Homo sapiens: one gene and its partner. Changing the gene in region 2 together with the main gene of any one other region gives a genetic interaction. Each region holds a gene or a part of one and is shown on either strand. Other genes may lie near its edges.

The links. Genes that interact genetically often act in the same process or in processes that back each other up.
Region 1: of CARM1 (region 2) and RABGAP1, changing one suppresses a phenotype caused by changing the other (phenotypic suppression), as found in Homo sapiens cells (one study listed by BioGRID).

Annotation. Positions count from the first base shown.
Region 1 is NC_000009.12:122,986,000-122,993,026, forward strand, and holds part of RABGAP1 (rab GTPase-activating protein 1), read left to right. Parts: intron 1-215; coding exon 216-420; intron 421-3,297; coding exon 3,298-3,472; intron 3,473-4,056; coding exon 4,057-4,214; intron 4,215-7,027. UniProt on the Homo sapiens protein: May act as a GTPase-activating protein of RAB6A. May play a role in microtubule nucleation by centrosome. May participate in a RAB6A-mediated pathway involved in the metaphase-anaphase transition.
Region 2 is NC_000019.10:10,874,536-10,881,562, reverse strand, and holds part of CARM1 (histone-arginine methyltransferase CARM1), read right to left. Parts: intron 1-7,027. UniProt on the Homo sapiens protein: Methylates (mono- and asymmetric dimethylation) the guanidino nitrogens of arginyl residues in several proteins involved in DNA packaging, transcription regulation, pre-mRNA splicing, and mRNA stability.

The sequences.
Region 1 (7,027 bases), on a different chromosome or scaffold from region 2:
GATGCTCAACCTGTACCTAAAAATCTTGGTGTTTCTGACAGAGTTCTAGTGTGGGATTTCTGGTTTTCATGGGCATTTCTTTTAGGGTATGGCATATTGTCTCATTAATACTTAATTTTAGACCTTAAATGTTACTTGCAGATTTTTACTTGCTAATCGTATCAACAAAATATCAAAGTGAAAGTAATCACTTCCTTATTCATTGTTTCTTTCAGATTCTGAAGCTTCAAGTCCTTTCACACCAGTGGCCGATGAGGACAGCGTAGTTTTCAGTAAACTGACTTACTTAGGCTGTGCCTCGGTAAATGCTCCCAGGAGTGAAGTGGAAGCCTTAAGGATGATGTCCATCTTAAGAAGCCAGTGTCAGATTTCACTAGATGTTACCCTTTCAGTGCCGAATGTGTCTGAAGGAATTGTGAGGTGAGACTGGTTTGTTGAAATCTTTCGATATTTACATCAGATCTCTGACCTGTTGCTTCAGAAAGAAGCAATAGTGAATAAAATACATATTAATAGTTATTTTACTTGTGTAACGTTTCATTTACCTGGCACTCATGTCTCCCAAGGACTGTGACCTTTGTGAAAAATGGTTACTTATTTGTAATAGTTTTTCGTACTCTTCCCGATCATGTGTAGTACATTAGGCATTTAATGTTTTGGGGATAAATGAAATATATTGACATGAGTCAGCCTAAAAGATTATATTTTCCATGTTCCTTTGATGAAAATACAAGCTTGACACATTATTTCAAAATGGAGTTTCATGTTGAGTTTGAAAGTTACAAAAATTTATTATTAAATATTAACTATACCAGCACACCCCTTAATTTTTATGATGAGAAAACTGGCTAGGTGCAGTGGTTCATGCCTGTAATCCCAGCATTTTGGGAGGCTGAGACGGGTTGATCACTTAAGTTCAGGGGTTCGAGACCAGCCTGGGCAGCCTGGGCAACATGGTGAAACCCTGTCTGTACAAAACATACAAAAATTAGCCACGCATGGTCATACACACCTATAGTCCCAGCTACTCAGGAGGCTGAAATGGGAGGATCACCTGAGCCTGGGAGTTCAAGGCTTCAGTGAGCTGTGATCATGCCACTTCACTCCAGACTGAGTGACAAAGTGAGACCCTGTCTCAACAAAGCAAAATGAAAAAAAAAGATGAGAAAACTGAGGCACAGAGAAGCCTCTAGCTGTTTATACTAATAGAACAAATAACAATTGCAGATAGCTAATCAGATGTCTGTATCAACCAGCTAAATATACTGTTGCTCAATAAGTCAGATGAATGCAGGTAAAATAAATTTTTTTTCCCTATTACCAAAGATACATGCTTATTTAAAAAAATTGCCACATAAAAATAGCCTTAATTCTACTCTACCACTAATAAATACAGTTAACATCTTGGCTTATTAAGATCTTCTTTGCATATTGGTATATGTATATGTCTAGGTATATGTAAATATACCTGCATATATATACATACATAATTTACAACTGTTAGAATCAACTTTTTTTTTTAACAGCAATGGACCTGTACATACCATCTTGTACTTAGTTTTATATCGTAAACCTCTTTTCATGCCAGTAAATATTATTAAAAATTTTAATTTATGATGGCATATGAATGGGTTATAAATAAATAACCCATCTCTTATATTAGACATTTTAAGGCTTTTATCTTTCAGAGAAAAAAGCATGAATGATGATAGCTAGTTTTAATTATATGGGAATATCAGTGTTTTATAAATAGGTATCTTTGAGCTCAATCTTTTTAGACTTCTGTTGATTTCCTTAGGATAAATTCCTAGAAGTAAACTTATTGAGTTTGTCTATTTTTATTGCTTCTAATAACATTGCCAACTAGCCATCTAGAAATATTGATCTAGTTTATACTTTTATCAGCAGTATATAGAATATCCATTTCTCAGTATCCTCAGAAGTATTTTGGACTTTCATGGTGACAGAGTAATAGCTGTGTGTTGATTGTAGTAAAATAATCTGTATATGTAATTTTTCCCCTTAAGTATTTAAATAACTATTTTGCAAAGACTCACAAATTCTATTTATTAATGATAAACTATTAATAAAATGTGTTTAGCACTCATTTCTATATGTTTCTTAGTCAATACTCATTCCTCTAACTGAAGTTAGACTTTAATATATTTTTAATTCTATAAAAGAAGTTAGAAAGCTAGTCGGTTTTACCCCACATTTTTAGAGTTTTCATAAAAGTGCTTTCAAACCTGTGTTAGATCCTCTTCCTAGGTATTTCCGTGATGAGCAAGGCCTTCTAGGCTTTCCCATTAATGGCTCTACCCACATAGTGTTGAAATTGCATAGTTTCTTTTTAGACCTTCCATAGTTGTGCCTTACTGCCCTGATCAGAGTCTGGAATGTTGTAGGTATCACATAAATATTTGTTGAATAAGTAGATTTTTGAATGAATGCTATCCCTTTGATTTTTTACTGAATGGCATCCTTTTGCTTTTATTCATGATTTTTTTTTTTTTGAGGAGTTAACATTTTGTATAATTTCTGTCCTTATTTTCCATGAATCAAAAAAAAACTTGTTTCAGTCTGAGAAAAAGCATCAGTTTTTTGTTTTTTATTTTTTCATAACAGATTAGGTCATTTTTAAAGGAGATAATTAGAAGCACAGCTTTGCCCAGGTGTGGTGGCTTATGCCTGTAATCCCAGCACTTTGGGAGGCCTAGGTGGGCGGATCACCTGAGGTCGGAAGATTGAGACCATTCTGGCTAACCTGCCCTGTCTCTACTAAAAATACAAAAAATTAGCCGGGCATGGTGGCACATCCCTGTAATCCCAGCTACTTGGGAGGCTGAGGCAGGAGAATCACTTGAACCCAGGAGGCGGAGGTTGCGGTGAGCTGAGATTGCGCCATTGCACTCCAGCCTGGGCAACAAGAGCGAAACTTGTCTCAAAAAAAAAAAAAAAAAAGCACAGCTTCAATGATGTATTTTGGTAGTCTAATTTACGTATTAATCGTCTTTATTTTGTAGCAGACTGTATAAGAAATGTGCTTATTGATATTGTTTATACCTTTCTGTTTGCCTCCCTAAAACATGATACTATATGGTTTTTAGTACTATGGAATTACGTAATCAATAGCTTCCGGAATTCACATATGAGTTACTTATTAAAATTTAAGGTTAATATCAGCATACCAAATATATGATCTTCTTACTAGAAAGAATGAGTCTCACATCTTAATCTAAACGTAGTGCAGATTGTTCATAATTCCTGTAATCTCTCTGTATCTTTTTCTCTGAACAGACTCTTAGATCCTCAGACAAACACTGAAATAGCAAACTACCCTATCTACAAAATCCTCTTCTGTGTCAGAGGGCATGATGGAACTCCTGAGAGTGACTGTTTTGCTTTCACTGAAAGTCATTACAATGCAGAGCTCTTCAGAATACACGTCTTCCGGTGTGAAATACAAGAAGCTGTAAGTCCTCAAGAGAAAACTCTCTGCAAATGAAACTTCACCAGTGCCCTCACTAGGTTGAAATGATTATGGTATTTATTATGATCACTCATAAGCCAGATGAAATTCTCTGCTATTGTTTTAGTGATTCTAGCCTCATGGGCCAAAATATAAATTAACTAAAAATTTGATTAACTAGAACTTTGTTACTACTACTAAGAATGTCAGAGGAGATCTGTTGGCTACTTTTGATTGGGTTAAGTAGGCATTCTGGTTCTAACATTGACAGATTTGCAAACCATTCTTTTAAATCAAAACTTGTTAGGACTGTTTTCATTGTAATATCTTCAGATAGTTTCTAACAATTTAGGAAGTGATTTTTAAATTGGATTTATAGTGCTTACAACCATTTCTTTTTTAAAACCCCTTGTCTGGACATTTTTAGTGTTGCTTGCTTTATAGGCCTAACAAATTAGGTAATTTACCAAAAGAAATAAGTGGGATAAAGATAATTATTGCCCTCCAAAGTAGGTAATCTTCCAGCCTTAATAAAGGTATTTTATATCTTTTGATAACAGCCCATTTCCTAACATGTCTGGTTGTAGGTAAGCCGGATACTTTACAGTTTTGCCACTGCCTTCCGCCGTTCTGCCAAGCAGACCCCACTTTCAGCCACTGCTGCACCCCAGACTCCTGACAGTGACATCTTTACCTTCTCTGTGTCTTTAGAAATAAAAGAAGATGATGGTAAAGGTTATTTTAGGTAGGGAATCTTATTTTATTCATGTATTAACATGCTGTGGTTCAGGGGAAATTCTAGGTCAGATTATAACTTTCATACCATAAAATGATGGCTTTTAAAGGGAGGGCTTTTAAAAAAAATCTGGATGATAAAGGCATATAAATACATAAATTTAACAGAGGCAAAGTTTGAAGAATTTTAAAGCAATTAAAAAAATTGTCATATTGGGAACATGTTGCTACCTTCTTTTAGTCAGATACCAAGTGGCTAACTGCTCACAAAAATATGGCCAAACCGCCAGGCGCTGTGGCTCACACCTGTAATCCCAGCTCTTTGGGTGGCTGAGGCGGACGGATCACCTGAGGTCGGGAGTTCGAGATGAGCCTGACCAACATGGAGAAACCTTGTCTCTACTAAAAATACAAAATTAGCCGGGCGTGGTGGTGGGTGCCTGTAATCCCAGCTACTTGGGAGGCTGAGGCAGGAGAATCGCTTGAACCCGGCAGGCAGAGGTTGCAGTGAGCCGAGATCCTGCCACTGCACTCCAGCCTGGGCAACGAGAACGAAACTCCGTCTCAAAAAAAAAAAAAAAAAAAAAAAAAAAATATATATATATATATATATATATATATATATATATATATGGCCAAAGCTTAGTCAGCTGGATTTGTAGCTATATTTGTTTTGCTGATTGTATTTGCTTGTTTTAGTTGGTTGATTTACTTATATTAATAATCTAAAAATCTTAAGCCTTTTCAAGTCAAGTTTTCCCAGTAAAGTTATCTGCATACATTGGAAGGGGAGAAATAAGGTCTGTGTCTGAAGTCTAATCTTTTGTAGGGTTAGAAGTGACTGATTTTAATTTTTAAATATAATGATAATCCTTTGAGTGGTGGAAAGAACCATGGAATAGAAGTCAAAACTTAGCTTTAGTTTAATTATTGTTACTATTAACAGTGTCCCCATTTCCAAGTTTCTTTACATCTGTCAGTAGTTTCCTCATTTATTAAATGAGGTGGCTAGACTCTAAAACCCTTTCTCACTTTAAAATTTTATGGTTGCAAGATGACTTGATGTTTTTAAAATTACAGCCCATGTCCCAAAATGATTGTATTATAATCAGTAATTGCATGTAGAAGTCTGTTTCCTCCATGACTACCTCATTAAATTGGTAAAATGAAGTTATATAAAAATATGAATATTTCTAATATTTTGCTTTTAAATTAAGCACAGTGATTGGTTTATTAGATTATTAGAAAAACTGATAATTTTTAGTCTTTCTTCAGACTTTGGAATTGTCATGCCATCTGGTGGCCAATTTAGTGTACAGTGCAGCTTAAACTTTGAGGAGTAAAGTATGACTCATTGTGCTCTATGCTTTCTAATTAGATAGATTTCTATTCTCTCTCTCTCTTTTTTTTTTTTTTTTGAGATACGCCTCACGCTGTTGCTCAGGCTTGAATGCAATGGTACAAACATGACTCACTGCAGCCTCAGCCTTCTGGTCTCAAGCAGTCCTCCCACCTCGCCCTCCTGAGTAGCTGGGACCACGGATGCATGCCACTATGTCTGGCTAATTTTTTTTTAAGTTTTTCTAGAGATGGGGTCTTGCCACATTGCCCAGGTTGGTCTTGAACTCGTGGTCTCAAGTGATAGTCTCAGCTTGTCAAAGTGTTGGGATTACAGGCATGAGCCAACCATTCCTGACTATTTCTATTCTCAAAGCAATGCTGTGAGGTAGTCCTTCCTGCAATGTACCTTCCTGCCCTGCAAAGTGAAAATTATAATCTGTATAATTTTAAGTAGTTTTTTACCTTGTTAAGCAACCTTTAAACTAAATATATTTTCTTTCTTTTTTTTTTGAGACAGAGCCTTGCTCTGTCACCAAGGCTGGAATGTAGTGGCACGATCACGGTTCACCGCAACCTCTGTCTCCCAGGTTCAAGCAATTCTCATGCCTCAGCCTCCTGAGTAGCTGGGATTACAAGCATCTGCCACCATACCGGGCTAATTTTTTCTATTTTTCAGTAGAGACAGGGTTTCGCCGTGTTGGCCAGGCTGGTCTCAAACTCCCGGCCTCAAGTGATCCATTTACCTGGGCCTCCCAGAGTGCTGGGATTATAGGCATGATTCACCATGCCTGGCCTTTTTTTCTTTATTGAAAATATTTATGTAGTTTTGGTCTGTAAATTCTAATTATTAAATAGGAAAGATTAAGATCCCTCAGAAGTATCAGTATAACTTCCCTTCCTTCTGAAATCAGGCATATTCAAGGTAGAATGATCATAAACATCTCTGTTCTATTTGTTAATACTGACAAAGTGCTATTACAGAAAATCCCTGGATGGTCAGATTTGCTTTTCACATTTGTTAGGACTTTGTTCTCCTTTTGCTACATGGCTTTGCTGAATTTCTGGTTTATAATAAATACTGTTATGTTAACTTAAATATATTATTTAAGTATAATGATCAATATACCTAAATATATTAGGTTAATATATATTATTTAGGTATAATAATAATTATATATTATACATATAAATTATGTAATAGTTATATACCTATTATTATATAAAACCTATTATATACTTACTATTATACCTAAATATTTATTTTATCTAAATATTATACCTAAATAATTATTATACCAAAATAATTATTATACCTAAATATATTAGGTTAACACAACAGTACTTTAGATGTATGAAATCCTAGCAAAATATACCTTGGTTTGTCAGATTTAAACTTGTCAAAGGTAGTTCCTCTTATCCAGTAATTCTGTAATATGTATGGAAATTTATCTGCAGAAATAATCATTGAGGTTTTCAAAGAAT
Region 2 (7,027 bases):
TCCAGTGACCGCCCCTTGGCTCTCACTCTGACCTCTCACGGCATCTGACCTTGCTGCCCTCTCCTTCCTGCCCTTTCAAAGCTTCTCGCCTGTCCCTGGAGAGATGTCCTGGCCCTGCGCAGAGAGCCCCCAATCCCTTACCAGCCAGGGCAGACTCCACTCCCCAATCAGGTGCTGTCCTCCAGGAACTGGTACCCTTTTTCAGTCACAGATCCTTCTGAGAAGCTGACCGAAATCAGGGGAGGTTCTGCACAGAAAAATGTGCAGAGAATCCACAGCTACACCACGGCCAATTTATGGAGCACTTACTTCGGGCCAGGCACACAGGGCAAAGCTTTTCTTTTCTTTCTTCCTTTTCATATATCACAAGTCATCAAGCAAGAAGCATTTTTTTTTAGAGACAAGGTCTTGCCCTGTTTCCCGGGATGGAGTGCAGTGGTACGATTATGGCTCAATGTAGCCTCAAGCTTCTGGGCTCAAGCAATCCTCCCGCCTCAGCCTCTGGAATAGCTGGGACTAGAGGCATGTGCCACCATGCCGGCTAATTTTTTTAAATTATTTTTTAAGAGATACAGTTTCACTGTGTTTCCCGGGCTGGTTGTAAATTCCTGGACTCAAACCGCCCTGCTGCCTCGGCCTCCCAAAACCTGGGATTACAGGCATGAGCCTCTGTGCCCAACTGGGGTGAAGTATTTTACATGTGTTTCCTCCCCTCCACGAAAACCTCCAGGGAGGTGCCACTGTCACCCCCTTTCAGGGAGGGAAAGTGAAGCTCAGAGGCTCATCCACAGTCACAGCTACCGATTCTTGTCCTTTTACCCCTTTGCAAAACTGTGTCCAATTGTGAGGGGCTCATGGGACCGCCCCCAGGGGCCATCCACAGACCAGATTAAGAACCCGAGCTCTGGAGCCGTGGCTGCCATGACTCACACCTGTAATCCCAGCACTTTGGGGGCCAAGGTAGGAGAATCGCTTGAGCCCAGGAGTTCCACATCCGCCTGAGCAACATAGTGAGACCCTGTCTCTACAAAAAAAAAAAAAAAAAAAAATTAGCCAGGCATGGTGATGTGCGCCTGTGGTCCCAGCCTGTAGAGAGGCTGAGGGAGGGAGAATCCCTTGAGCCTGGGTGTTCAAGGCTGCAATGAGCTATGATCGTGTCACTGCACTCCAGCCTGGGTGACACAGCAAGACCCTGTCTCAAAAAAAGAAGAAAAAAAAATCCTAGCTCTGAGCTGATGGAACTGATGGAAACCCCTCCCAGCCTCAACTCGCCACCTCAAGCAGCCAGGTGTGGCCCAGGTGGGCCCCTCCATCCTGCCCTCGCTTAAGTGGCTGCTTCCCTGGATGTCTTTGCAAACTCACCACCTCCCAGGTTCTCCAGCAGACCTTAGAAGCAGCAGGTTTCCGCAGAAAGGAGACACACCTGCCACAGAGGTCTTCCTGAGCCTCTCCACCTGCTAAATCCAACCTGGTCTGAGGTGTGTGAGGCTTGGCATCTCAAAGTCATTAGCAAGTTCACACCACACTCCAGCTTCTGTTGAAAGGCCTTGCCCACCCATCTCATCCAGACCCCCTACACAGAGGGCCAGTGCTTGGTGACCAGGAGCTGCTCACAGCACTGGACACCTTCCATTAAGATTTCACCTGAGGCTGGGTGCGGTGACTCATGCCGGTAATCCTAGGACTTTGGGAGGCCAAGGCAGATGGATCACTTGAGGTCAGGAGTTCAAGACCAGCCTGGCCAAAAGGGTGAGACCCCCGTATCTACTAAAAATACAAAAATTATCTGGGTGTGGTTGCACGCACTTATAATCCTAGCTACTTGGGAGTCTGATGCAGGAGAATGACTTGAACCTGGGAGGCTAGAGGTTGCAGTGAGATGACATTGAGCCACTGTGCTCCAGCCTGGGTGACAGGGCGAGAATTCATCTCCAAAAAAACCAAAAAAATCCTCGATTCCAACCCAGCCCTGTTTCCACTTTTAGCCCCTCCACTCCTCACAGGGGACCCTGTGCTCCAAGCCAGGTGGCTGTCTCCAGCCCTGGCCCACTGGAGCACCTCTCCATAACCCAGAAACGTCCTTCCCAACATTCTGGCCAGGTCCAGATCCTACCCACTGTGGCCAAGGTGACTCCCTGTATGTTCTCTCTTTGTCCATGGAAACTGGAACCCTAAATTCAGCTGAGCACATGGCCGCTCAGATTGAAAACTACATTTCCCAGCATCCCTTGCAGCTGGCAGTGATCATGTGACTACATTCTAGCCAACAAAATGAAAGCTGAAGCACCTTGCATCAGCTACCGGGAACCTTTCTTAACAAACACCTGGATGTGACCTTTGCACCCTTTCTCCTTTGTCCCTTCCTCTGTCCTGCTGTCTGGAAGCCAGGGTGTAATGGCGGGACTCCAGCAGTCATGCTGAAACCTGAGGACAAGACCTCACCTTAAGAATGGTGGAGGATCAGCCTGGGGCAGTGGCCTGTAATCCCAGCACTTTGGGAGGCCGAGGCGGGTGGATCACCTGAGGTCAGGAGTTTGAGAACAGCCTGGCCAACGTGGCGATACCCCGTCTCTACTAAAAATACAAAAATTAGCCAGCCGTGGTGGCACACGCCTGTAGTCCCAGATACTTGGGAGGCTGAGGCAGGAGAATCGCTTGAACCCGGGAGGCAGAGGATGCAGTGAGCTGAGATCACACCACTGCACTGCAGCCCCTGGGCAACAGAGCGAGACACCATCTCAAAAAAAAAAAAAAAGCCGGGGGGAGGACCTGGATCTGGGAACTTCCAAGAGCCCAGGAGACTTTGGCACCTGACAATCTTCACACTTTAGCATTAGAGCACAAAAAATAAAATGCCATCGTGTTTAATTAAGCCTCTGCTACTTTGGGTCTTTGTGATGAACAGATAAATGTCACTGAACCACTTATATATGCATTTAAGGTGGGCATCCAGTCACCCAGAATGCCAAAGCCATCTCTGCTGCCTGCCAACCACATCACTTTGGCCAGTCAAGTTCTTTCATTTCTGTTTTTCCACCAGTAAATTGGGGTTGGTATCTCTGACCTCACAGAACTCTTTTCAGAGTAAGTGGTAACATACAGTAAGCGCCACAATTGGCACAAGGGGCTCACACAATTCAGAAGTATGCTCTATTCGGCCTGAGGATTTTTTGGTTTCTCTTTTGGCTGGGGCCAAACTCCCCACAGACCCCAACTCCTGCCTGCCTCATTCATTTATCCCAGGGGTCTACAAGCTTCCCCTGCCTCGGGCCAGTGAGTAAATATTTCAGGTTTTGCAGGACACTGTGGTCTCAACTGATTATTGTTGTTTGTGGATTGGGTTTTAGTTTTTTTCCCTAATCAATCTCTCAAAAACTGTAAAAGCCTTTCTTAGCTTTGTCTGTACAAAAATAGGCCACACCGGGCCCAGCGGTTCGTGACTATAATCCCAGCTACTTCTGAGGCTCAGGCAGGAGGAGGATGGTTTGAGGCCAGGGGTTTGGGGCCAGCCTGGGAAACACAGCAAGACTCTGTCTCTAAAAAAATTGCTTAAATTAGCCAAGGGTGGTGACATGTGCTTGTAGTCCCAGCTACTTGGGAGGATGAGGCCAGAGGATCACTTGAGCCCAGGAGTTAGAGGCTGCAGTGAGCTACTAAAATACAAAAAATTAGCTGGGCATGGCGGCATGTGCCTGTAATCCCAGCTACTCGGGAGGCTGAGACAGGAGAATCGCTTGAACCTGGGAGGCAGAGGTTGCAGTGAGCCGAGATTGCGCCACTGCATTCCAGCCTGGGCAACAGAGCGAGATTCCATCTCAAAATAAATAAATAATAAAACACAGGCTGGGTGCGGTGGCTCGCACCTGTAATCCCAGCATTTTGGGAGGCTGAGGCAGGCAGATTATTTGAGGTCAGGAGTTCGAGGCCAGCCTGGCCAAGATGGTGAAACCCTGTCTCTACTAAAAATACAAAAATTAGCCAGGGTGGTGGCACAGGCCTGTAATCCCAGCTACTCAGGAGGGTGAGGCATGAGAATCACTTGAACCTGGGAGGTGGAGGTTACAGTGAGCCAAGACCATGCCATTGCACTCCAGCCTGGGCAACACAGTGAGACTCTGTCTCACTAATAAAATACAAACACAGATAAAAATAGGCCACAGGCTCAATGTGGCCCATAGGCCTAATTTATATCACTGCCCTTTCCCTAGCTGCCCCCAAGGTCAAGCATTTTGAGTCAACACAAGTTTATGCACAGTCTGGTACGGGATAAATGCTCAATAAATGACGGTATCCATTAGCCACACGCAGGCACCGCTGAAACACAAATGCCTTTCTGGGGTTACTAACTTTCCCTGTTGTCACTCCAGCTTGACACCGAGATGTCCTAAAGATGGGGCACATAACAAGCTCTTCTATACCCCTGCCCCAGCTGTCAGGGGGATCCCAGGAGTGTAACCAAAGGAAGTCACAAGGGCCCCTGGTTCGGTGACAGCAGGCCATTCTTCACCTTCTTTGGACAAAGGGTTTTTCTCTGAACTTTCCACCCCATGGCATGCCCCTCACAAACTGAAGTTTAGCCCCTGACGGAGCCCATGCTGCTGTGTAAGCTTCTGAGCCAAGGGGATGGGAGAGTCTAAAGCACTGGCCACACTGACTCGTGCTGACCAAGAAAGAAAAGTGACACAGTCATTTCCAGAAAGAGCGCCACAGGGCTGGGGAAGTGAGAGTTTGTTCTGTTCTCTTTCCCGGCACCCCTCCCTGAGAAACTGCCTCCTTTCCAAGGGAGGGCAGCCTATGCCCAGGAACTCCAGAGGCCATGCCAAAGCTTCCTCAAGCCCAGGAAGCCCACGCCAAAGGGCCTCCCCCTCTGCACAGGGAAAATGGCCTGGTGTTGGTAGTTGCCATTTGGCCAATCTCATGGACGTAGGCCAGGGTGACTTCAGATGGCAAGAAGTAACTGTTCACTACAGAGTGACAGAGACAGGCCCTTCTGCAGCTGTCATCCTTCCCCTGGAGGGTGCAGACGTCAAGGAACAGGGCTGGAAGTCCTCCCCACGTGCCTCTCCTGGGCCTCCTATGTTAGGTACAGATCATGGCCCAGGACTCCCTCCCATGGCCGGTGAGCCAAGACAGCGGGGCAGCCCTGGAGCATAGGGGGCTCCTCCTAGAAAAGCTAGCTCATTCCCATGCCACACCAACGAACACTGCTGTCAGTAACATGGACATAAATATTTATTGGCCGGGCGCAGTGGCTCACGTCTGTAATCCTAGCACTTTGGGAGGCCAAGGCAGGAGGACTGCTTGAGCCCAGGAGTTCAAGACCAGCCTGGGCAAAATAGTGAGACCGCATCGCTAGAAGAAACTTAAAAATTAGCCATATGTGAGGCTGGTGGCGGTGGCTCACACCTGTAATCCCAGCACTTTAGGAGGCCAAGGTGGGCGGATCACCTGAGGTCAGGAGTTCGAGACCAGCCTGACCAACACGGAGAAACCCCATCTCTACTAAAAATACAAAAAAAATTAACCGGGCATGGTGGCACATGCCTCTAATCCCTGTAATCCCAGGACTTTGGGAGGCCAAAGCAGGCGAATCGCTCGAACCCGGGAGGCAGAGGTTGCAGTGAGCCGAGATCACGCCATTGCACTCCAGCCTGGGCAAAATTCCATCTCAAAAAAAAAAAAAAGACAGACATCCAAGTTGTAACCCCTGGAATCTGTGAAGGTGACCTTATTAGGAAATAGGGTCTTTGCAGATAAGGATCTTGAGATGAGATCATCCTAGATATAAAGTGGGCCCTAAATCCAATGCCCAGTGTCCTTATAAGAAAAGAACAGCTGGGGCCGGGCACGGTGGCTCAAGCCTGTAATCCCAGCACTTTGGGAGGCCAAGGTGGGCAGATCACGAGGTCAGGAGATGGAGACCATCCTGGCTAACACGGTGAAACCCCGTCTCTACTAAAAATACAAAGAATTAGCCGGGCGTGGTGGCGGGCGCCTGTAGTCCCAGCTACCCGGGAGGCTGAGGCAGGAGAATGGCCTGAACCCAGGAGGCAGAGCTTGCAGTAAGCGGAGATCGCGCAATTGCACTTCAGCCTGGGTGACAGAGCCAGACTCCGTCTCAAAAAAAAAAAGAAAAGAAAAGAACAGCTGAGGTGGGAGGATCACTTGAGCCTAGGAGTTCGAGACCAGCCTATAACACGGCGAGACTCCATCTCACTTTAAAAAAAAAAGGAAAAAAGAGGACACAAGACACAGGAGTGAAGACAGACGCAGGGACTTGGGTTTCGCTGCTGCAAATCAAGCAACAGCTGGATCCACTGCAATCTGGAAGATGCAAGGATTTTCCTGTAGAACCTCTCCAGGGATTGTGGCCCTGCCAGTACCATGATTTCAGACTTCTGACCATGAACTGAGAGAGAATCCATTCCTGTTGTCTTAAACCAAAAATCTGTCATAATTTGTTATTGCAGCCATGGGAAATTAATACACCCAGCACTGATCACCTCCAACTCCAGAACCCATGCTTTTTTTTTTTTTTTCAGACAGGGTCTTGCTCTGTCACCCAGGCTGACATGCAGTGGTGCAATCTCAGCTCACTGTAACCTCTGCTTCCCTGGTTCAAGCGATCCTCCCACCTCATCCTCCGGAGTAGCTGGGACTACAGTCGCAGGTACCACCACACCTGGCTAATTTTTGCATTTTTAGCAGAGACGAGATTTTGCCATGTTGGCCAAGCTGGTCTCAACCTCCTGACCTCAAGTGATTCGCCTGCCTCAACCTCTCAAAGTGCTGGGATTACAGGTGTGAGCCACCACGCCTGGCCAAGAACCCATGTTTTTTATCTCCATATCAATGTTACTTAAGGATAAAGAGGGCGGTGCGGTGGCTCATGCCTGTAATTCCAGGACTGTGGGAGGCCAAGGAGGGAGGATCACTTGAGCCCAGGAGTTTGAGACCAGCCTGGCCAACACAGTGAAAACCCTTTCTCTACAAAAAATATGAAAGATTAGCTGGGTGTGGCACATGC